3 linked regions of the Homo sapiens genome follow. The protein of the gene in region 3 purifies or fractionates together with the protein of the main gene of each other region. This does not show direct contact. Each region holds a gene or a part of one and is shown on either strand. Other genes may lie near its edges.

Region 1 (7,184 bases), on a different chromosome or scaffold from region 3:
TGTTTCACTGCAGCCCCCCACCTTCCCCCAAAGCGACACGGTGACACATGCCCCACACTGAGGGCCACTCTCAGGACAAACAGACACCACAGCAGCCCCATCGGTGCCCAGGGAGGCGCAGGACAGGCGGGCTGCTGGAAGGCGCAGAGCTCACCATCACCGGAGGTATGTAATGGAGAGGACACGGTGGGTGTTAGGAAAGCCTCCCCACCACGATTCTTCCACGTCACTCCAACCTGAGGCAGGCTGGCGCCCACGGCTGCTGGAGAAGCTGCTACAGTGAAAAACCCCTCGGCTTCCCACCTCCTCCCCTTCTCTGGCTCTCAGTCGTTCCCCTTGGAGGGGCGAGGGAGGAATCGCCTAGTGCCGGCTGCAAACTCACTCAGGGGGACGTGGGACACAGCAAAGGCTCAGTGCCCTCCCCGTTCCGTGCCTCCAAGCCAGCAGGAGAGACCTCTCAGAGGCGGGTTCCAGGGATGTGCACAGAGGCCGCCTCCAACCCACGGAAAGGCCGTGCAGGTGTCTCACGCAGGGAACAGTTCCAAGTGGGAGACTGTGTGTGTGAGCACCTGTGTGGACATTTCTCTGTCCAGGTACCCATGTGTCACCACAACAACCGAACACACTCTAGCGCAAAGCTTCTGGGCGCGGGCCTGTTTGAGGCAGGGCTGTCCAGCTACAGTAAGGTCTGTGCGGGGTCATCCCCAGCGGAGCCTGGCTTATCCACGTGGGGACCCCCTGGGTCTAGCCTTCCCCCGGCTCCAGGCAGAGGCTCAATAACCGTTCTGTAATGAGCAGAAGCATGTGTGCATGCCTCTACCAGCTGCTCCATCTCAAACCACCCGGCCGCCTCAGTGAACCTTCTTGGCATGGCTGAGGGTCACAGGAGTCCCTGGGCCACAGCCAGAGAAGGTCAGCAAGGAAGGATGAGTGCCCGAGGCCCAGGGGGCCAGCTCTGGGTAGGTAACACAACCTGCTCCAGCCCAGATGAGTGTGTCAGTATGGCTGGGCAGCCTGATGGACTCTCTTTGGCAGGTTTCGAAAACCGCCACGAGCTTAGACAGGCTGTGAGCAGGGGTGCTTTCGCTCGCCCTGAATAATTTAACAGGAATGATTCCAAAAGAAGTGCATGAGCTTGGCCGGGTGTGGTGGCTCACACCTGTCATCCCAGCACTTTAGGAGGCCAAGGTGGGCAGATCACCTGAGGTCCGGAGTTCGAGACCAGCCTGGCCAACATGGTGAAACCCCATCTCTACTAAAAATACAAAAATTGGCCGGGCGCGGTGGCTCACGCCTGTAATCCCAGCACTTTGGGAGGCCGAGGCGGGCGGATCACAAGGTCAGGAGATGGAGACCATCCTGGCTAACACGGTGAAACCCCGTGTCTACTAAAAATACAAAAAATTAGCCGGGCGTGGTGGCGGGCGCCTGTAGTCCCAGCTACTCGGGAGGCTGAGGCAGGAGAATGGCGTGAACCCGGGAGGCGGAGCTTGCAGTGAGCCGAGATTGTGCCACTGCACTCCAGCCTGGGCGACAGAGCGAGACTCCATCTCCAACAACAACAACAACAACAACAACAACAACAACAACAACAACAACAAAATTAGCCGGGCGTGGTGGTGGTGCATGCCGTAATCCCAGCTATTCAGGAGGCTGAGGCAGGAGAATCGTTTGAACCTGGGAGGCAGAGGTTGCAGTGAGCTGAGATCATGCCATTGCACTCCAGCCTGGGCGACAGAGAGAGACTCCATCTCAAAAAAAAAAAAAGAAGCACGTGAGCCTCAGACAAGCTCCTGTCTCCTGCAACATGCACTCTGGCCCCACCATCCTACACTGGCAGTCGCCTATCACCTGTGAAGACGGCGGGCCTTCCCAGGGCTCCTCCTCGCCCGGTGACACACAACGCAATGGCCTGAGGACAGGCCAGGCTGATCCCCAGCCACACAGCAGCAACCCTGGCCCGTGCTCTGCAGCCCCAAGGTGGCCCTGTCCCACTCGCTTTTTGCCCGCTGCTTGGCAGAGGCAACGCATGGTGGAAGAATGACCGAAATTCTGTGTCTGACATTGAAGAGCCTTTGTTCCCGTGCAGAAAACATCCCACCATGCGCCTCCTCCCTTTCGGGTTTCCTGGCCTCACAGGAGGTCTTTTTGAATCAGGAGGGGAGGGACCCCATCTCTGCCACCGGATCACCGGTCCTTCCAAGGGACCACTGGATCGTGACATGGCAGGGTCAGGATGAAAACCAAATCCCAGAAGTGGCGACCTCTGGGTGGAGGAAGGATCCCCAGGTGCAGGCAATTGGGGGTGCTTGTCTGAGCAGACTTTAAGAGCCATAATTAAAGCAACCACAAGTTACTCTTTTTATTGTTATTTTTTTGAGACAGGGTCTCACTCTGTTGCCTGGGCTAGAGTGCAGTGGTACAATCCTGGCTGCAGCATCTGCGGCTCAAGCCATCTTCCCACCTCAGCCTCCTGAGGAGCTGGGACCATAGGTATGCACCACCATGCCTGGCTAATTTTTTTATTTTTTGTAGAGATGGGGCCTCACTATGTTACCCAGGCTGCTCTCAAACTCCTAGGCTCAAGCGATCCTCCTACCTTGGCCTCTCAAAGTGTTGAGATTACAGGTGTGAGCCACCACACCCGGCCAAATTTATTTTATTTATTTATTTATATTTGAGACTGAGTTTCGTTCTTGTTGCCCAGGCTGGAGAGCAATGGCATGATCTCGGCTCACTGCAACCTCCGCCTCCCAGGTTCAAGCGATTCTCCTGCCTGAGCCTCCTGAGTAGCTGGGATTACAGGCGCCTGCCACCACGCCCGGCTAATTTTTGTATTTTTAGTAGATACGGGGTTTCACCATGTTGGCCAGGCTGGTCTCCAACTCCTGACCTCAGGTGATCCACCTGCGTTGGCCTCCCAAAGTGCTGGGATTACAGGTGTGAGCCACCGCGCCTGGCCAAAATTATTTTTTATGACACACACCTATTAAGATAATCAACTTCTTTCCACCAATTGAATAAATCACCAGACACAGTGGGCCCCAGGCCCCGGGGCTCTCAAACTCTGCGGCAGGCACTCAACGCCACCCGTGCTCTCGGCACTCCTCAGACCGACAATGATCGGCTGCCCGTGGCCAGGCCCTCCTCAGGAAGGCCTCCCACCACCCAGGCACCCACAGACCCGCGGTACGCTGAGTGCACCGTGGTCACCTCTGGAGACCTTGCAACCCGGCAATGCCACGTAGGTTTTGGCCTGGGACAGATTCCTTGATTGTCTTTTCACTTCATTGCCCCAAAAACTCCCCGACAAGGTCGCAGGTGCTAAAGGACTTGGAGGGACCCTGTATTTAACAAGGCGTGCGTGGTTGCTATGGTCAATGAGATGACTGCTGGAGAGCTGGACAATAATCTGATCAGACAAAAGAACAGATGTGGCCTCAAATATTGCAAGAATATATCAGGAGCCTCTGAGGAACACCAGCCAGCCTCCTGCTGCGTAGACAAACTACAACTTCCCAGACAGCTGAGGTGAAAGTGGTGAGTTTAAGAGGAAACCTTTGGGAGGCCAAAGTAGGAGGATCGCTTGAGGGCAGGAGGTCAAGACTATCCTGGGTATCACAGCGAGACTCCTGTCTCTACAAAAAGTAAAAAATTAGCTGGGTGTGGTGGTGCACCTATAGTCCTAGCTACTCAGGAGGCTGAGGTGGGAGGATCGCTTGAGCCCAGGAGGCTGCAGTGAGCTGTGGTTGCACCACTGCACTCCAGCCTGGGTGACAGAGCAAGACCCTGTCTCAGAGAACAAAAGAGGAAGGCTTCAAACATCCAGGACACGGGCTCCGACTGCCTCCTGCAGAGCGAGCCCGCCCCACGCATGTCCCCTGCACCACTCCTTCTCCGCCTACCTCGGCTGGCCTTCTCAGCGCTCAGACCCACGGCTCTTCCTGAACCTGTGGCCCCCCTCACCTGCCGTGATGGTGTCCACCTCCTTGGCTGCCAGCTCCTCCACGTCCGACCTCTTCCTCAGCTCAAACCTCCGGGATAAACCTTCTCGGGGTTTCCATAATTCCTGGATCAAGAGGGGCTTCTCACTGTCCCCAAACACCCGAAAGCACCGGGCCTGCCACCGCTGCCCAGCATCGCCGGCTTGGCCCACCACGTCACACAGCACGTACTGGCCGGCCTGCCTGGGGTCCAGGGCGTACCGCTCCAGCGCCTCCTTCACCAGCTCACGGGCGCTGGAGGTGCCGGTGGCCAGGACGCTCTTGTAGTGGGTTCCTGTGCAGACACTGTCCCCAAACACCTTCAGGACACCAGGGGCCGACAGCTGGGTGGAGAGCTCGGCGGGGTCATCGCTGGCGCCCAGGCTGGAGAAGGTGGAGTCCAGGTCCCGGTACTTGTAGCTCAGCGTCCGGGACAGCATGCTGGACAACAGCTGGCTCTGCCGCTTCAGTTTGCTCTTGGTGGGCGGGGACATGATGAAGTGCGTCCCATAAAACATGGTGGGTGAGGCTTCATGGATGAGGACTGTGGGCTTCAGCCAAAGGATGTGGGGAGGCCGTGACCTGGGTGAAAAAGTGAGAGAGGTTAGCGCCAACCATCGTGACCACCAAGAGCAAATGAGGCCACAGGCGGTGACTCCTGCCCGTCATCCCAGCGCTTTAGAAGGCCAAGGTGGGAGGACGGCTTGAGCCCGGGAGTTCCAGACCAGCCTGGGAAACATAGTAAGGCCCCGGCTCTACAAAAAATTTAAAAATTAGCCAGGCATGGTGGTGTGCACTGTACCCACTGCTCTGAAGGCTGAGGCTGGAGGATGGCTTGAGCCCAGGAGTTCAAGATTGCAGTGAGCTATGATAGTGCCACGGCCCTCCAGCCCGGGCAGCAGAGCAAGACCCCATCTCAAAATCTAATGGACATAACAGGCCGTGGGCATCCTGGCCCCGCAGACCTGACACCAGAGCACCTGAGCAGAGGATGTGGCTGGAGCCTGCAGGGCCACCAGAGACCGAGAGGACTAAACGGGCTGGAGCGCCCTTCAAGGAAAGCCATTACTGGGAAACACAATGAGGTCGCCTAAGTAAGACACGCTCCGCTGCAGGGCTTGGATTTCTGGAAAGTGCTGGGCGCAGCGCCCGTGTGCAGTGAGCATCAAGGAGCGCCCCACCCGGAGCCGGCCCCAGCACCATCACAGCCACAGAAGAGCAGCGGGCAGCCCAAGGGCAAAGCTTCGCCTCTCCGTAAACCTCGTGTCTCCTACCCCACAGGCTGCGACGTGGGAAATGGGTCACAAACACAGTGCAACCAGGAAAACAGGCGAATCGCAGCCACGTTGGCAGAATAGACCATCAGACATTCCAGACACAAACCCCCAGAATCTACCCCTCAGGGCAAGAGACCCGTCCTGGCTTGAAGGAGATACTCCCTGGGATGGCAGCACTGAGTGGCCTCGCAAGCACGGCGGGCACAAAGGGCCCCTCTCGAGCCGGTGCAGGCATGGCCGGAATGCAGGCGTCCCGCCCACCACAGGCCGCGGGTGCCCGGCGCTCCAGGCCACAGAGATGCAGTCTCCTGGGGAAACGGGAAAACAGCCTGGGACGCGTTGGCGTGTCATACAATCACACTTCTAATGTCCGTAGCGTGCCCAGGGCCAGGAGTTCCAGATGGTTTCTCAGTCTCCCTCCAGAACCTCTGTGGGGGCAGGAGGGCAGAGAAAAAGGAAGGCAGGTCTCCGATTTGGAAAAGGTGAGGCTGGACTGCAAGGCAGGAAAATACTGGAAAACTGCGCACACATCTCCCCATTACTGTACCCCACTTCCGTGCTCATGTTCTCACCAAAGACAAAGGTGGCAGACGAGTGAGCCAGGAGGAAAGCCTATTTTCTGGAAAGCTCTGGAAAGAGTGGTCCAGGTCCCAGTGAACACAGCACGGGTCGCCTGCCACTGCGACCGGGGTCAGTACTAAACACCGCAGCAGCCAACTGTCACTGTCCAGGCTTGACTCACTCGTCACGCTGCGGGCGCTGCAAAAGGCTTCTGGAAAGGACGGTGGCTGCCTAGGGCCACAGAAAGCAACCAGGGAACCCCTCCAAAGAAAAGGAGCCACACTGTCCCTTAGGAAACTAAACAGTGGAACCGCCCCAGCCTCCAAAGCTGACACTGCGAACTGGCCTCTTTCTAATATCACCGGGGCGTGGGTCATCTTCTCTGGAGCCTCTCACTGCCCGCCAGAGCTGTCATGGGTGAGTCCTGAAATCAGACCACCACTCGCTTCCTCCAGAACCAGCCCAGGTCAGCCAGCAGCTGTGCTTTCTCCGAGGACCTTGAACTCTTCAGAAATACTTCCGACAGCTTCGCACACCAGAGACTGGGTTCCCAACGCGGACGTCTGCCCTGCGGGGTGGGTGGCTGGCCCTTCTCCTGTTCCTATAGCCCACTGCGGACACTTCACCACGGCAAAGGCTTTCGCTGTGCCTGGCTTTCTGAAGAGGTGAATTTGCTGTAACAGGTCACGGAGTTCCCAGTACAGGTCATAAGCAGATGGAGCCTTGAGGTTCCATCGAGCCAGGCCATAAAGGAGTAAAGGAGCAAAGCCTTTGTTTCTCTTCCTCTGAGGAAGGTGCAACGAGTGGCCTTGTCAAATCCTAAGAAGCTCAGAGCCGGCCGCAGCTTCCCCCACGGACTCATCAAAGGCCTCGGTTTCATTTACAACAAAAGCATTTTCAGACAGTGCTCACATCACAAACGTGCGGCCTGGCCTGTGCACACCACACCAGCGGCTTCCAATCGCCCTCTAGTCTGACCTCAGTCTCCTGTGGTCAGTTTTCAAAGTGAGTACTTGGAATCACAGAACAAAACCCCTCAAAGAGCCTCTCCAGCCGGCACTTATTAACCATCCATGAGAGCTGCACAACCCTGCTCCAAAGCACCTCTCCAGATGCCCCAGGCTTAGAAGCCTCCAGGCAGCACACACTGGCAGAGGGTCGGCCACCACCTTTTCATAGTGCTCATTTCCAACGGGTTCCCCAGGGTGCAAAGGCAAAGTGCAGGTGGTGGATGGTACAGCCTCTGCCACCAGGCAGCTGTGGCTCAGGAAACCTCTGCCTCCGGAGATGAAGTCTGAATGCTGATATAAATACGATACCAAAAACTGGGGAAGCCCCCTCCAGGCAGGAGAAAGCCCATATC
Region 2 (8,041 bases), on a different chromosome or scaffold from region 3:
CTCATCTCTGCATTCCGCCCCTTGTCAGCATCCATCACGGTGACCATCCCCACAGGGCTGTTGGGCTGCAAGTTTTCTTTCACATAAAAGGTGAAGACGTCCTGCATAAACTTAGGGTCATTGTCATTTTTATCAGCCACCTGCACAATCACCGTAGTGCTGCCCTGCAGCACGGGGATGCCTTTGTCTTTGGCGTTAACTTTAAACTCATACCTGTCAGTCTGCTCGCGGTCCAGCACGGTATTGACCAGGATGTCCCCAGAATCGGGATCGATGGCAAAGATCCCCATCACAGAGGAGTCCAGCGAGTAGGCGATCTCGGCGTTCTTACCGCTGTCTGCGTCTGTCGCCAGCACCGTGGCCACCCTCTCGCCCGGGATGTTGTTCTCAGGGAAGTAAACCTCCACCACCGACTGGCCGAACATGGGCGGGTTGTCGTTGGTGTCTCCCACCTTGACAATCAGGGAGTTGTTGCTCGAGAGGCTGGGGCTGCCTGAGTCCACCGCCACGATGACCACGTTGAACTCCCGGGTGGCCTCATAGTCCAGAGGGGTCGAGGTGTGCAAGAAGTACTTTTTCTTGTTCTGGTCGCCCTCGGTGTCGCTGGCTGGCTTGAGCTGGAAGGGCACGTCGCCCACCACGGTGCAGGTGACCACCCCGTTCTCGCCTTGGTCTCGGTCGGACACCTGCACCAGAGCGATGGGGGTGTCGACCAGAACGTCCTCGGCCACGTTGGCCACCCCGTCCTTGAGGGGGATGCGCCCAATCTTGCGGATTTCAATGGACGGCACGTTGTCGTTCTCGTCTTTGATGTTAAGGACCACGGTGGCCTTGTCGGTCTTGGGGGGCTGCCCGCGGTCGCGGGCCATGACCGTGAAGCGCAGCTGGTTCACCTCCTCGCGGTCGATCCGGTGCAGGACGCTGAGCCAGCCGGACGTCTCGTCAAGGCGCAGCAGCCGCCTCACCGACTCGGTGGCCGCCCCGAACACGTATTCGATCTGCCCGTTGACCCCCACGTCCAAGTCGGCTGCGCGCAGTTGCAGGATGGGGGTCCCCGGGGCGCTGTTCTCAGCCAAGTCGGCCTCGTACACGCTCTTCTCGAAGCGGGGGCTGTTGTCGTTCACGTCGGTGATGAGGACCCGTAGGATGGCCTGCGAGGAGCGAGGCGGGTCGCCGCCGTCGCGCACTCGCAGGGTCAGCTCGTAGGAGTCGCGCTGCTCGCGGTCCAGCGCCCCCTTCACGATCAGCTGCGGCTGCTTCTCGCCGTCCGGGGTGTCCGCCACCTGCAGCTCGAACACGCTGCTGCGGCCGCCGGGGTTGGTGCCGCCGCCGCCCTCTGATGCGTCCAGCCGCCGCTTGGAGCCTCCCGAGCCGCCGCCGCTCGCGCCGTTCCCGCCGCCCCCGGGGTAGGGGGCGCTGTCGGCCGCCCCGGCGCGCCGGCTCTCGCCGCCGCTGCCGCCGCCTCCGGGCTCCTGGAGCAGCTCGTAGCGCTCGATGCCGTTGCGGCCGAAGTCGCGGTCGGTGGCTGTGGGCAGCAGGTAAAGTGTGCCCACCGGCCGATTCTCCTCCACCGTGAGCGTGAGCACGGGCGACGGGAAGGTGGGCGTGTTGTCGTTGATGTCAAGCACGATGACCTGACCCTCAAACAGGTCCACCCAGCTCTGCGAGGGCCCGATCACCGACACCTCGAAGTCCAGGAAGCACTCGTTCTCGTCGAAGATCATCTGACACTGGGGCAGCTTCTCGCGGTCGATGCGCCGCTCGCTCGTGCTCAGCTCGCCAGTGAGGTTGTCGATCTTCAGGTACTCGGAACCGGACTCCAGGCTGAAAGTCACCTCACCCGATCCGGTCACGATGCCCAGGTCTGAAGCCACGTTGCCGATGCGGACGTCGGCGGGGCCCTCCTCGGCCAGCCGGTACCGGAGGAGCTGCTTGGCGGCCGCCAGGCTGAGCGAGAGCGGCAGGAGGAGGCAGCAGCCCAAGCACCAGCCGCGCGCCCATCCCGCGGTCCGCATCCTCAGCATCTTCTCCTGCTGCTGCTGCTACTGCTCCTTCTAACCACAGCCCCCTCGGCGCCCCCCTCCTCCGGGGCCGGCCGCCTGCCCTCCCCCGAGTCCTCTCCCCTCTCCCGGAAAGGAAGGAGCGAGAGGGAGGGGAGGGAGGGGGCAAAAGCGGCGTGGAGAGTTGGCCGGGAATGGGGGTGGGAGGGCAGCGATAGATGCTTCTTTTTTTCCTCCTGCTTCTTCCGAAAGTTATTGTTTCATAATTCATGCAATGGGTGCTAATCGCCCGCTCGCCTGCCGCCGTTCAGTCGCAGTACTCACAGTTCACGGGACACTGCGCGCCGCGGGTTCGGCGCTCCCCCAACCCAGAGTCATCCCCTCAGCGGGCGGAGAATCCCCGGCTCTAGTCCCCGCTCTGTCGGAAGGGGCCAGAACCGCTCCGGCAGACGGGCAGTGGGGCTGGGAAGAGGTGGGGAATGAGCCTGCAGCCTCCCCCGCCTGCCAGCCCGCTGGTCTTTGCTGCTACTCGAGTTGAGTCCAATTCACGTTCCAGGCACTCACTCCAAACCCAGGCTCTGCTCCGGCTCCGGCCACCCAGACAAACGTGAGTCGCTTCCTGCACCAGGCGCTGGGGCCAGCAACAAGCCAGTCTCAACTCCGACTCTGCTCATGCAGCGGGGGAGCCAGTCAACAGATCGAGAATGAAAAATCCCCCGGCACGTCGCTTCGGGCACGGTGCAGGGGAGACTACTCGCGTCACAGAGCGGTCAGTGTCAGGGTCCCCCCGGCGCGCCAAAGAGAAGCCCGAGCCATCTTCAGAGACGCCCAGAGTCAGTCCCTTCTCACCCCGGAGAGCGCGGGTTTCTCTTTTTTCTTAACAACTCTGCGCAAGGTCATTAGTCACGAAGCAGCCGCCTGAAACCGCAGCAGCCTTTCGCCCACGGGGGCGAAGGCTGAGCAGTGCGCACCGTGCGGTGCCCAAGTTTGGGTTCGCAGCCGCAGAGTCCGTGCCTTTTCTCACCTGCATTCGGCCCGCATGTCGGAGCAGTGGGATCTGCAGCGCTGTGCGCGATTCAGGGAGGAGATTGCAGCCTCTCTCTCCCCGCTCTCTCTCGATCCCTCCCCTCCCTCCCTCCCTTTCTCTCTCCTCCCTCCTCTCTCTCCTCCCTCCTCTCCTTTCCCCTTTCCCCCTCTCCCACTCGCTCTCTTGCACGCTCTCTCTCCTTCCCAATGCAGGGAACTCAAGCTGAACTTGATCCCTTTGCAGTTCAAAGGTGAGCAAACCAGGCTCGGAGCACAGGCGACGTTAGCCGGCGAAAGCGCACGGCCGGGCGTCCCCAACGGCAATTAACAAAGATGCCCAATTCTGTCTGGATTTCCGAAGAAAAGCCAAAGGCTTTCGGGCGGGGGTGGAGGGGGAGGTGGAGTCAGAGACAGCTGCCAAGTAGCTTAAAAAAAAAAATCCAGTTTGCCAAGGGGAGAAAAAGTGTCAGTCGGTTGTGGCCTCGGAAGTGCCCTGGCACGGCTGGTGAATTCCGCAGTTGTCTCGTCCCTTTTCGCGTCTGGGAGAGTCTGGTGCGGGCGCTCCCGCCGCCCCTCGGGCTGCAGCGGCTCGGAGACACTGAACCGCTAGTGGGAATCTCCCGTTCGCTACCCGCGAGCAGGAAACCCGCAAGTTGCCCAAAGTGGTGGTTGCTGCTGGGTGCTCGCTCGCTCACGGATCAGGCTTGTCCCTGACGCTGCTGCTGCAGCGGCGGCGGCAGTAGCAGCCGAGCCGCCGAAACTACACACTAGGAGAGAGCGAGGGAGGAGGGCCCGGGATAAGGAGGCGGGAGGGAGCGTCAGCCAGCCGCCGCGCTCGGGAAAGCCCAGCCTCAGCTCCAGGGGCCGCTCAAAGTGTGCCCAATCCCAGCCAGTCCTCTTTAAGCCAAAGCCCAGTCCCCCTCCCTAGCGAGTACCGCCGTCTTCTCTGGGGGACTTGTTTTCCCTCCCTCGGGCTGGTAAATTTCCTCCTCCCTTGACTAATGCCCAGTTCACGCGTGAGAGCTTTCGGAGCTGGTGTCAGGATAGGTTTCTCCTTCTCCCTCCCTCTCAGACGACGTCCTCCTCCCCCCGGAAAGTGTCTCCGGTTCGCGATTTAGGATCTTGGTTAGGACATGGTTATCGGGGTCCTGGGGAACCTACGAGCGCCCAGAAAGCCACTCTGTTCTGAAAAACCATGACGGGCTGCAGTAGTGAAGAGAGAACATCAAACTCCAGAGAGCTGGAGAAAGATCCTTTTTTGGGAGCTCAGACTTTGGATGGTTGCGGGGGGCAGGGGCGGCGGTGGGTGGAGGGTGAAGGATGTCTGTCTTTGTTTAAATGCTTGACATTCCTGTCGTCGTGCTTGCTTGCGGGGGTAGACCGTGTGTGCGCGCCTGGGGAATAAACACATGTTGGAAACCTCGATATTATTTTCTGAGCAGAAACCTGCAGCCTTTAGTAACTGGCAAAGTGTAGCGTCACCTATCTGGATAAAAGGGAAATAAACTTTAATGGCAACTTTGTGTACCAAAGTGTCCCCAGCTTTCCCATCTCTCCTTTTGACTTTGTGTCCCTTGACTGTCCCTATTTCCTGAAGCAAGGCTTCTCCAATTTTCATTCACGACCACCGCAGCCGGCCTCATCAGATCTCAGGTCTGGTTGTGTTTTTGAACTGAGCCATTTACTCATTTATTTCAGTGGCTGTAAACGAAGAGGCCCGGCTAGGATTAAGACGACTGAGACGGACTGTAGGTATTTGGGGAGAATTTTTACCATCTCGAAAGAGAGAAAGGGCCGCTGCTGGGATTTGCTTAGTCTTCAGCTCGCCTGACGTATCCATACACATTTAAGGGCCTCCCCTCAAAGAAAAATTTAAAGCCGAAAAAATAAAATCTGTCCAGTGTGGGTATTCTTTACGAGACCTGGGTGACGAGGCAGAATGATTTAAACAAGACAAACACCAATAAAGTCAACGAGCAGATGTAGCGCGCGGTTGTTTGGGCGGGCGCAGGAACAGGAATGAGGAGGGAGAGGCGGCAGAGATTTCCAAGCTCTCCCTACAGGGGATCGTAGATGCCCGTTGGATGGAAGTGTGTCTAAGTGTGTGTCAGGGAGCTGGCGAGTATTTTCCAGTCTGTGAAAGTAGCATCACCCCAGGGGTGGTGGCTCCTCCTCCGAGGCCAGGGCAGGGAACCCGGCCTTCCCGCTAACCCTCCCGCTGCTGGCACCCGAACCTCTCAGCTCTGTATCTGCAGCATCAGCGAGAAAAGCCCCGCGCGCAGGCTCAGTGCGCACCGCCGCAGTCTCGAGCCGGGGGCGGGGGTGGGCTCCGCAGCGCCTTCGCGGCCGGCTAAGTGGCAGTAAAGCCAAATCCCTCTTACATTTGGCAAGAACCCGGGTTTATCGGAACGCCTGCCTCTCTCCAAACCTCCGACCCTGGTTCCCCTTTTTCCCAGGTTGGAGGCAAATGGGAGAAGCCGTCTCCACTCCGCGGCCTTGCGCCGTGCATTCCGATGCGCGGCAATATGGTGCAGTGCACTCACTCCCCTCATCGCCTTACTAAGATTTTGCAAACTTCAGGCAGCCGCTTGGGCAGAAACGTTGTGCACTCCCTCTTCCCTCTCCAGACCATAAACTTGAATAAGCCTCTCCGCATCTTCAAAGCATTTGCTCGCGGCTCTGGCGCGCACTCTCCAGGCGCACACTTGAGCGGGGCGCGAAGGAGTGGGCGGCTTTTCCTCAGCGCGCTGCACATTTCTTCCCGGATGACTAGGGAGTTGCAGCGCGTCCTTCACAGTGGAGTGGTTTCCTCTTTGCGAGCGGGAGGAAGTCTCCAGCCCGCCCTCCTCACTCTCATTCCTACCAACTTCGCGGCGGAGCCAAGCCAGCGTGGGAAATGGGTCCGACGTGTGCTGCATGGAGAACAGCGAGGACAGACTGCGGGGGCCAAGAAGCCTGCTGGCTTTGCTCCCACCCCCATCAGTCCCAGGCTCCGACCTTTCTGCCAGAGCAGCAAAGAAGTGGCGGCGGCTTTGCCCTGCAGCGCCGTTCTGGGCAAGCAAAGGAAATGGGCGGGGTAGGGGTACGGGGGAGGTGAGAGGAGCCCTCGGGGCGCCCTTGCGGCGGCTGGAGCTCCCAGTCCTCTTCCGCCCCCTCTCTAGGGGCTGACACTCTCTCCTCTCGCCGGCGCAGAGGATGAATGAAGAGAGAAGCAGTTTCTCCCACCCCCGCCCCATTTCCGCAGTCTTAGAGCCAGTGTCACAAGTGCTCAGCAATTTCATTAAATGGAACCGGGAGACTTAATCCCCCCCGGTACCAGACCTCACCGAGGGAATGTGATATCCGGCTTCGCTCCCACCCACCAACCCCCCCCCCCCCCCCCCCCCGGCTTCTCAGACCCGAGGCTGCATTTATCTACTCAACCTGAGAGGAAAGGGTTCAGAAGGAAATGGGATCGAAAGTGTAACCGCCTGCAATAAATTAAAGAGCCTGCTGCTGCTGCTGCTGCTGCTGCTGCTGCTGCTGCTTTGGCGGCCAGAACTGGAGAGAGAAAATGAGATCAGTGCCCTAAAGCTTGCATCGATCAGAGTGATTAGACGTCATCGCATGTAGGAAGCAAAATGTTTGAGGGAATGTTGAAATGGAGATTTCTGTTTTTTCTTTAGTGGCTTTTTAAAAAAGAACAATAAAAGGAAATACCCCTTTGAAATCAAGATGTAAAAAATGAAATTGATTAAAATATAAATATCATCCCGTGCTAATATGCATTTAATAAAACCTTGACAAACGATTCATTTTCTGTGCCAGAAATCTTACCCTAAACTTAAAATATTCAGTAGATTTTTTTTTTTTAATTTACCTACTAACCTCGCTTGCTTAAACCTGTTTTGCCGTTAAGAAATTTCAGTGGCTGAACTGAAAAATAGCATTCAGGGTCCCTGATGTAGTTCAAGCCTCAAGAAAAGACAGTAAGAGAAGTAACTACAACAAAAGTTTATGGTTAAGAATACAAAGTAGATGCTGGAGATGTGATCTCAGGGGGCCTTTCATTTATAATAGACGCTGTATTCACAATAATATGAGAAAAAGGTTAAATACAGTAAACACGATAGCCAGTTCTGGAAAGATAAAAACAGTTTGACAGAAAAGGAGAAAGTAACTCAAGAACTCCACCAAGGGACAAACAGAGGAAATGACACTCGGATATCTCTAAATCCATTGACCTTTCATCTTTTTAAAAAGGGTCTTCTATCTGTAGACGTGTTTTCTAGGCCTTTATGATCAACCATTTCTCTAACCCCTTTCGCTAAATTTGATACTTCAGTCTTCCTTTTCTAAATAATTACTACAAACGATTGTCCTTTAAACATATATTACTTGAAAGAGTAAACATATCTGTGCATAACTATTCCAAGTATGATTCTGATCCTTGAGACTCTGAGAAACTTTAGATATATTTTACAGCCTTAAATCCATGCTTGTAGTATTAACATGTTTAGTAGACTGAAATGACTAAATTATTCATTGCAATAACAGCCTTTTTGATAGACATTAAAACTCATCAGTTTAAATAAGGAAACCACAGATTTCCTTTTAAGCAGGTAATAACTGCTTGCATCAGTGGTTATTTAATTGGTTTCTAGCCAAGACATAGAATAAGTTGTGCTGTTTAAATCAAGAAATCATATGCAAAGCTATATTTTACAGTGTATCTATAAAAGAAGCACACAGAAACTAAACTAAGTTGATTCATACTATCTACTGGATAACTATAAACATTTCCACAAGGCCGATATGAAAATCTCATTTACAAAAAAAAAAAAAAAAAGAAGAAGCTTTGAAAAATAAAATTTTAAGTGTTTATTAGCTCACACGCTGTCTGGTTTTCAGATTTCAATAGAGTGTTTTAGGTTTTAAAATAACACAGAATAAATGATTTTTACCTTAAGTTTAGCACATATTGACAGTTGATTTTTTATTCATTTTCTAAAGGTTTACATGCCAAAATATGTGCA
Region 3 (7,131 bases):
CCCCTCCTTGGAGGTGATACCCAGGCTGGGGCCTGTGGGGAAGGCTGAGGCCAGGGTTGTGCCCTCTGAACATCTGCAATTTGTCCTTGCCTTGGTGCCAACCCCTGACCACTGCCCTGGGATGGCTTCATGCCTGGATGCCCAGCACAGAGCCTGGGGCTAAGGGTCCCTGATGATGACCACAGACCCCACCCCCCAGTGAGGAAGACCCTGTTCCTCCCTTGAGTCAAGTCACCTCCTTCCCCTGCCCCCAGCTGAGAACAGGCCCAAGTGAAGCCAGGGGTGGCCCAGCTTTAGTTGACCACAGTCTAATAATGGTGAGTCATATTGTATACTTTGTATACTTCACTGTATACGAAGCACTTTCCTCCTGGGACCTCACTGGACTCTCGCTAGCCCTGGGAGGTCTGAGATGGCCTTGTTAAGATAAGGAAATGGAGGCACAGCAAGGCTGGGATGGTGCCCAGGGCCGATGGCTGGTGAGTTGCAGGATGGCGAGCAGGACCCAGATTTAGGGGCTCCAGAGAGGGTAGATGGCAGCTGGAGAGGTAAGGATGCTTCGGGCAGGGCCAGGGTGACCTTGGCTGCCCGGTGGTAAGGCCCACCCCACCAGGCTGTGTGGGTTACTGCCCCTCTGGGAGCCGGGAAGCTGGGGCTTGGTGAGCTCAAGGTTGAACCTACAAATCATCGCCAGGTGACTTGAGCTGCCCTTGCGGCTGAGTGCATCCCCCATGAGTGCCCAGCAGGGACTAGCTCAGTCCTCCAGCCCAAGGCCACACTGCCTTTACCAGTCACCTGTGTCCTCCTGGAGCCCACAGCTCCCAGGGGCTCGGCAAGGGTTTGTTGACTGAACAGTGATCTTTCTGACTCTCAGAGCCCACTGTCCCCTTCCTGGAATGACACTCCCTCGTGGTGCCCTACTCCTTCCAAGATAAAGAAGAGGCACTCCAGGTTTGTCTAAGACCCTGCACACCCATCCTGGCTGACACCAGCCACCTCATCTTCCACTATCCGCCCCCCAGCTTCTGTCCCCCACTCTAACCAAGAATTCCTGAGCCTCAAAGCCAAGGCTGTTTCACGTCACAGCAACTGTGAGCTTCTGCTGTCTGCAAGAACATCCCTCCTGCCCCTCCAAGACCCAGGTCAAGAGGCACCTCCCTGAGGAAGCTGATGTCAAAATCGACTTGGCCCTCTGTCTTGGGGTCACGAGGTAATGCCTGCTTCAGCAAGATCTTGCTAAGCCATAACTGTCTAGGTGCCCAGCCCCCATGCTGGAATTTCAGCTTTGCCAGGGCGAGATCCAGCAGGGCCCGATTCACTTCTGGTCCCTGGTGCCCTAAACAGCACCTGGCACACAGTGGACTCCCAGCCATATCCCCCGAACTGTGCACAGCCACCAGGCATGGCTGAGCGGGTTATTCCATCAGCTTTGTGGAATATCGTGCAGCTGTTAAAACCACAATTATGAAGATGATTTTTGTTTGTTTTTTAGGGACAAGGTTGCCCAGGCTGGAGTGTAGTGGCACGATCATAGCTCACTGCAGCCTCAACCTCCTGGGCTCAAGTGATCCTCTCGCCTCAGCCTCCTGAGTAGCTGGGACTACAGGTGCCTAATTTTTTTTTTAAATTATTTTTTGCCGGGTGTGGTGGCTCACGTCTGTAATCCCAGCACTTTGGGAGGCCGAGTTGGGTGGATCACCTGAGGTCAGGAGCTTGAGACCAGCCTGGCCAACATAGTGAAACCCCGTCTCTGCTAAAAATACAAAAATTAGCCAGGCGTAGTGGTGCATTCCTGTAGTTCCAGCTACTCGGGAGGCTGAGGCAGGAGAATTGCTTGAACCTGGGAGGCAGAGGTTGCCATGAGCTGAGATCGTGCCATTGCACTCCAGCCTGGGCGACAAGAGTGAAACGCCGCCCCCCCAAAAAAATTATTATTTTTATTTTTTTGTATTTTTTTTATCTCAAACTCCTGGTCTCAAGCAATCATCCCACCACAGCCCCCCAAAGCTCTGGGATTACAGGTGTGAGCCACCATGGCTGGCTCGAAGATAACATTTTGATATCTAAGTGTGACATGTCAAACAGAGCTACAATCATACAATCCATTCCACTGCGAGGCATTGAGTGCCCGCGCTCTGTGCCAGCTCTGTGGCTTGGTGTGGGGGTGGCAGGGATAGAAAGGGGTCTCTCCTTCAAGACATTTAGTTCAGAAGAGGAGGAAGGCTTGAACATAATTCCTGAGCCACACGCCAAGTGCTGGGATGGAGGAATGACAGAGCCCCAGGGCCACACGTCCATCTGGGGGTCTGGGAAGGCGGGACGGAAACCACAGCTCTGTAAAAATTACAGCCGTCTCTGCATGGACAAGCCTGGAAGGGAGCAGAGGAACGGAAGCTGTTGACGCCACAGGGCGGTGGCATTGTGGGTGATTTTTCTTTCTTTTATTGTTGGTATAATGCTGTTTGGGCAATAAATAAAAATTGGGAGGAAAAAATAGCTGTTTGGTGAATTGAGTAGAAATTGGGAGAAAGAAGAAAGGGAGTTAAGGGGAGGGAAATTAGAAGGGTGAAGTGAGGAGGGAGAGGCAGGAAGGGCAAAGACAGGCGCATGCAGAGCGCACAGAGGCCAGAGGCGGCGGCCTCAGGCTAGGCCCCAGTCTGTTCCCGGACTGGGCGCAAGAGGGCTGGGTTTGCACAGGGAAAGGAGGGGGAGAGGTGCTGGAGTCTCTGTAGGGGGGACCCTCCCCAAGGGGATCTGGGAGGGCATCCCAGAGGGGAGGTGGCCCCCAGGCCTCGATGGACAGCAAAGAGCAGGGCCGGCAGAGGGGGTCCCAGCCAGACTGTGGGCGGTCTGAGGGTGGATCAGGAGCACTGGGGCCCTGGTGGGGGCTCTGGGCAGGCTTGGGACTCAGAGCAGCCACTGACAAGGTGATGAGGTCTGACCAGGGCAGGCCAGGCTGGGTATATGGGAGAGTCCCTTACTTAGTGTCCCAGCGAATGCCAAGAGCACGGGGACTTTCAGGCTAAGAGGAGGCTGTCTGGTCTAAACACTCCCTCACCCCACCCGGATGCCACCCACAGGCATGAACATCTTCCCAGTCTCTAATAGGTGCCAGGCACTGGGCCAGCCACCCTCCCATTCAAGGTCTTCTTCATCTCTCACAGTAACCTTTGGAGCTAGGTAGTAACGGTCCCATTTCACAATCCAGGACACTGAGGCTGGGAGAGGTTCAGCAACTTGGCCAAGGTCACAGTCAGCTGGGGATGGGAGGGGGCGCTGGCATGGGACCCTGGCACTGCCCCCTTAATAGGTGGGAGGGGTATTGCTGGGGAGCGCCCGGGTGTTTACAGCACGCGGCGGATGAGAGGGTCTGCCCAGGGAAGGGGCGCCAGGCAGGAAGGAAGGGGTTACTTTGGCATGCAGAGTAGGCGGTGGGTACCTGTTTGTGAATGAATGCACGGGTGGACGGATGAATGAATGAATGAATGAATGGATGGCTGGAGGGATGGTTGAATGAGTGGGTGCGGAGAGGAGGGTGCTGGGGAGGCGGCGCGTGAGCTAGAACCCCTTTCTCCCCCGCCTCCACGGTGGAGGTTGGCTTTGGGAGCCTCCCTCCCCCAACTCCCCAGAGGGGTCGGCTCCCCCACCCGCCCTTCCCCCAGCCAGTTTAGCCGAGGGCGGGGGAGGGGGGCGCGGAGGCCGCTTCTCCCCGGCTGGGCCAGAATCCCCGCGCGGCGGCGCAGCCTCCCGCGCCGGGTCCCGCCGGCCAGTGCGCAGCGCGGCGCCCCCGTCCTCCTCCCCCTCCCCTCCTCCTCCTCTCCCTCCCCGCTCCGCGCCTGCACGCACGGCCCCCGCCGCCGCCGCCGCGAGGGGAGAGGCGGCCGCACAGCCTGGTTCCCCGCGCCCTGCTCGCCGCCGCCGCTCGCGCGGGCACCGCCGCTGGTCCCCGCCCCGCCGCCGAGCGCACCCGCCCGGGCACACGCACCCCGCCGCTGGACGCACCCCCCGCACTCCTCCCGCGGCTCCGCCGGGCGCCCGAGCCGGGCAGATGCGCCGCCGCGCGCCCCCCGCTCCGGGCCCGCCACCGTGCTCTGCCGCGCGCCGGGGGCTCCTCTCCCGGGCCCCCCTGGGCGCCCTCCGGCTCTGGTTCCCGCCCGCTCCTTGGAATAACCCCTGAGGCTCCAGCCGTCACCGCAAAGTTTCCCGAGGAGACCCGCCTCCCCGGCCGCTGCGCAGGTAGGGCTGGCTGCACCGGGCGGGGGTCGGGGTCCGCGCGTCTGGGACAGGGCGCCAGAGCCGACGGGGCGGGGGCCGGGGGCCCGGGGGCACCGAAGCGCCACGGGGTCAGGCAGCCTGGCTTTGCCCCAGAGCGGCGGGAGATGGGACGCCCAGCCTTTGGGATTTGGGGTGGGGGTCCCTGAGTCAAGAGCCAAGCACCAGTAGCGGTGGCGCTGGCCCCGCCGCGGGGAGGCGCGGGGTGCGCGGCCGGCGGCTCAGCTCTCCCGAGCCGAGGCTGGAAAGGGCGGGGGCTCAGCTGGAGCTCTAGTCCAAGCCCTCGCTGCACCCCCCAGGGAGGGGGCCTGGCCCGTGGGGGGCGTCAGGCCGGTCATGTGGGTCCCAGCTCCCGCACTCGGGAACCGGAGGAGGGCGCGCGGCCAGGGACAGCCGGCCGGCCTGGGCGCCGCGCTCCCGTCCCCACCAGCCGCGTGAGTCACGGTTGGAGCGAGGTTTTATTTTTAAAACGACTTCAAGGGGGGCATGAGCAGCCTCCAACTTCCCTCCCTGTGCGCGCTGTGGACCGTCAGCCCTGAGCCGGGCGGGGGCTGGGGCCGTACACCTGGCGGCTGGAACGGTGAGACCATGGTGCCTGGGCGGGGGGCGGCGGGCACCCCCCATCCCCCAGCTCTCAAGACAAGGAGGCGGCCCGACCCGGCGGCGCACGCCCCTCCTCGCGGGCACTGGAGACCCCGGGGAGGAAGGCTGGGGAGTGTTGTCGCCCAGCTGCAGGGAACCGTGGTTGATCAGAGCTCCCCGAGGAGGAGAAAGTTGTGGAACAGGGACACCAGGGAGCTGCCACAGCCTTCCCGGTGGCCCCGGGAGGTCTTCGAGGCCCTCCAGGGTGGGCAGTTTTGAGAGAATACAGCCCAGCTGGGGTGTGCCAGGCCCCCGAGGCCCAAGCCAGAGCTCTGATGTGAATAAATACAGCCAAGGCTGGGGACGGAGGTGAGGGGTGACTGAGAACAGCCCTGCCTCACCGCGGCCCCTACGCCCTCGGGTTGGATGGAAACCAGCCCCTCCACATCCCCCTCCCCAGGTGGCTCAGGAGTTAGGAAGGAGGCTGTCTGTGGGGGGGACCCACGATGCCACTGTGGAGGGAGGTGGCTGAGGCACCCTGTCTCTGCCCGGCGGCCGCGGGGGAGGCAGCCGCCGCGCTCAGGGGCTCCAGATTCCAGTTTCTGGAGTTGAAAGCTACTGCATCTCTTCCGCCAGCCCCGGGAGGAGAGGCGCAGACATCACCTGTCAGCTGGTGCTGACTCCGTGGGCGACTGTTCAGGGCTTCCTCAGAAGGTTTAAAATGGAAATGGCCTGAGCTGACAGGGCCCGTGCCTGGGAGGGGACGCTGCCTAGCTGGGCCAGCAGTGAGGGGGCCCTGGTAGGTGTGAGGGGCAGGAAGAGCTGAGGGCTGTCACATATCTGGCTGAAGGGTCGGCCATGGGCACAGGGTGTGTGTGTGTGTGCGCACCCAGTCCCATGTTCTTTCCCAGACACAGAGACTGGATACTCTTCAGTAAAAAGCACCCTGACCCCAGCATGGAGGCTCCGTAGCCCACACCCCCAAGGCAGCTGTGGCCTGCTGGACTTCACCTAGACCTGGGTCTGTGCATCCGCACTCTACCATTTATTGGTCCCTCCACCTCCCTGTGCCTCAGTTTCCCTTGTTGGTAAAATGGGATTGATAGTGCCACCTCCTGAGCCTGAGCCAGGGTGCTGCTTTGTAAGTGCATTTGACGCATGTTGTTAGTGGTCCTGCTCCTGGACTGGAGGATTCTCAAGGGCTGAGGGTATCTGCAGGGACTTCAGAGGGTCGGGGGGTCGGATTTTCCCACCACCAGCCAGTGTGCTGTCACTGGACTTCATCCTCACGCTGGCCCTCAGTGGCAGCGCCCTGTGTCCCCTCCTCCCCATCTCCGAGGCCTCCCATGAAAGCCCCTGGGAGGTCCGCCCAGCTGTTTCTAAGGAGGTGATGGGGAGGGGGTGCTGCCATCCCACTGGTCACCCACTGCCAGAGGTGTACAGACTTAGCTCTGTAGAGATTCATGCCTGGTGGCTGAGCCTGTGTCGCATTCACTGGGTGACCCTGGGCCTGCAGCCTCCCCTCTGGGACCGGCTTCCTTGCCTGCGCAGGGGTTTACAGCAGTTGTCCCACAGAGAGGATGTCTGGGTGTTCTGCGTGTGGGTGCAGGGAAGGGCAGTGCACACATGAGCAGGTGGCATCTGTGCTTGCTTCGAAGTTAGCTGAGAGGACTAGGGCTCCAGGTGGCCTTGACCCTGCGGGTGTTGAGGGACGGAGAGGTGGGTGTAGAGCCCAGAGGCCAGCACGGGGGCAGCTGTCAAGTGGCTGCTCTGGTGCAGGGGGAGGATGAGGCCTCCAGGATCTAGCTGGGCACAGCCACCTCTGCCCAGTCATGGGGCTAGCAGCCCCCTCCCCAGCCAGCCAGACATCCCCAGAATCAGGGCTGGACATGGCCTGATCTCAGAGATGGGGCCTGTATGGGACTGTGTGGGTCTGGCTGTGCTGGCCCTTCTGCTCTAGAGTCTGGAAATGATATCAACCACCTAGTCATCCCTGTTGATTGTGTTCCTGGGACACTAGAATGCCATCACAGGGTCCTAAGGACTTTCGGTTCCTGGGGAGGGTTTCTCTACCTGGCCTGCTAACCTTCGGCAAGTGACCCGTCTTCCTCATCTGTAGGGTGGGGTAACAGCAGTACCTACCTTGGGGAGGCACCCACGTTGAGAGGATGCGTATGAGGTTTCTAGCAGAGTTCATGCCTAGCAATGTGGGGCCCTTGCCTAGTCTACACCCCTCGTTCACTGTGGGCCAAGGGCTTTCAGCTTCTTCAGGCCTTG

What was found. The genes of interacting proteins can lie anywhere in the genome.
Region 1: the proteins of FLRT1 (region 3) and RADIL purify together in Homo sapiens (affinity purification with mass spectrometry; 2 studies listed by BioGRID and IntAct, with this or other methods). This does not show direct contact.
Region 2: the proteins of FLRT1 (region 3) and PCDH7 purify together in Homo sapiens (affinity purification with mass spectrometry; 2 studies listed by BioGRID and IntAct, with this or other methods). This does not show direct contact.

What each region holds. Positions count from the first base shown.
Region 1 is NC_000007.14:4,873,639-4,880,822, forward strand, and holds part of RADIL (ras-associating and dilute domain-containing protein), read right to left. Parts: intron 4,566-7,184; 5' UTR 4,502-4,565; coding exon 3,967-4,501; intron 1-3,966. UniProt on the Homo sapiens protein: Downstream effector of Rap required for cell adhesion and migration of neural crest precursors during development.
Region 2 is NC_000004.12:30,715,406-30,723,446, reverse strand, and holds the start of PCDH7 (protocadherin-7 isoform d precursor), read right to left. Parts: upstream 3,079-8,041; 5' UTR 2,025-3,078; coding exon 1-2,024. Other genes in the region: uncharacterized protein LOC124900844, read left to right, coding at 5,540-6,106.
Region 3 is NC_000011.10:64,031,924-64,039,054, forward strand, and holds the start of FLRT1 (leucine-rich repeat transmembrane protein FLRT1), read left to right. Parts: upstream 1-4,007; 5' UTR 4,008-4,236; intron 4,237-4,758; exon of another isoform or gene 4,759-4,852; intron 4,853-7,131.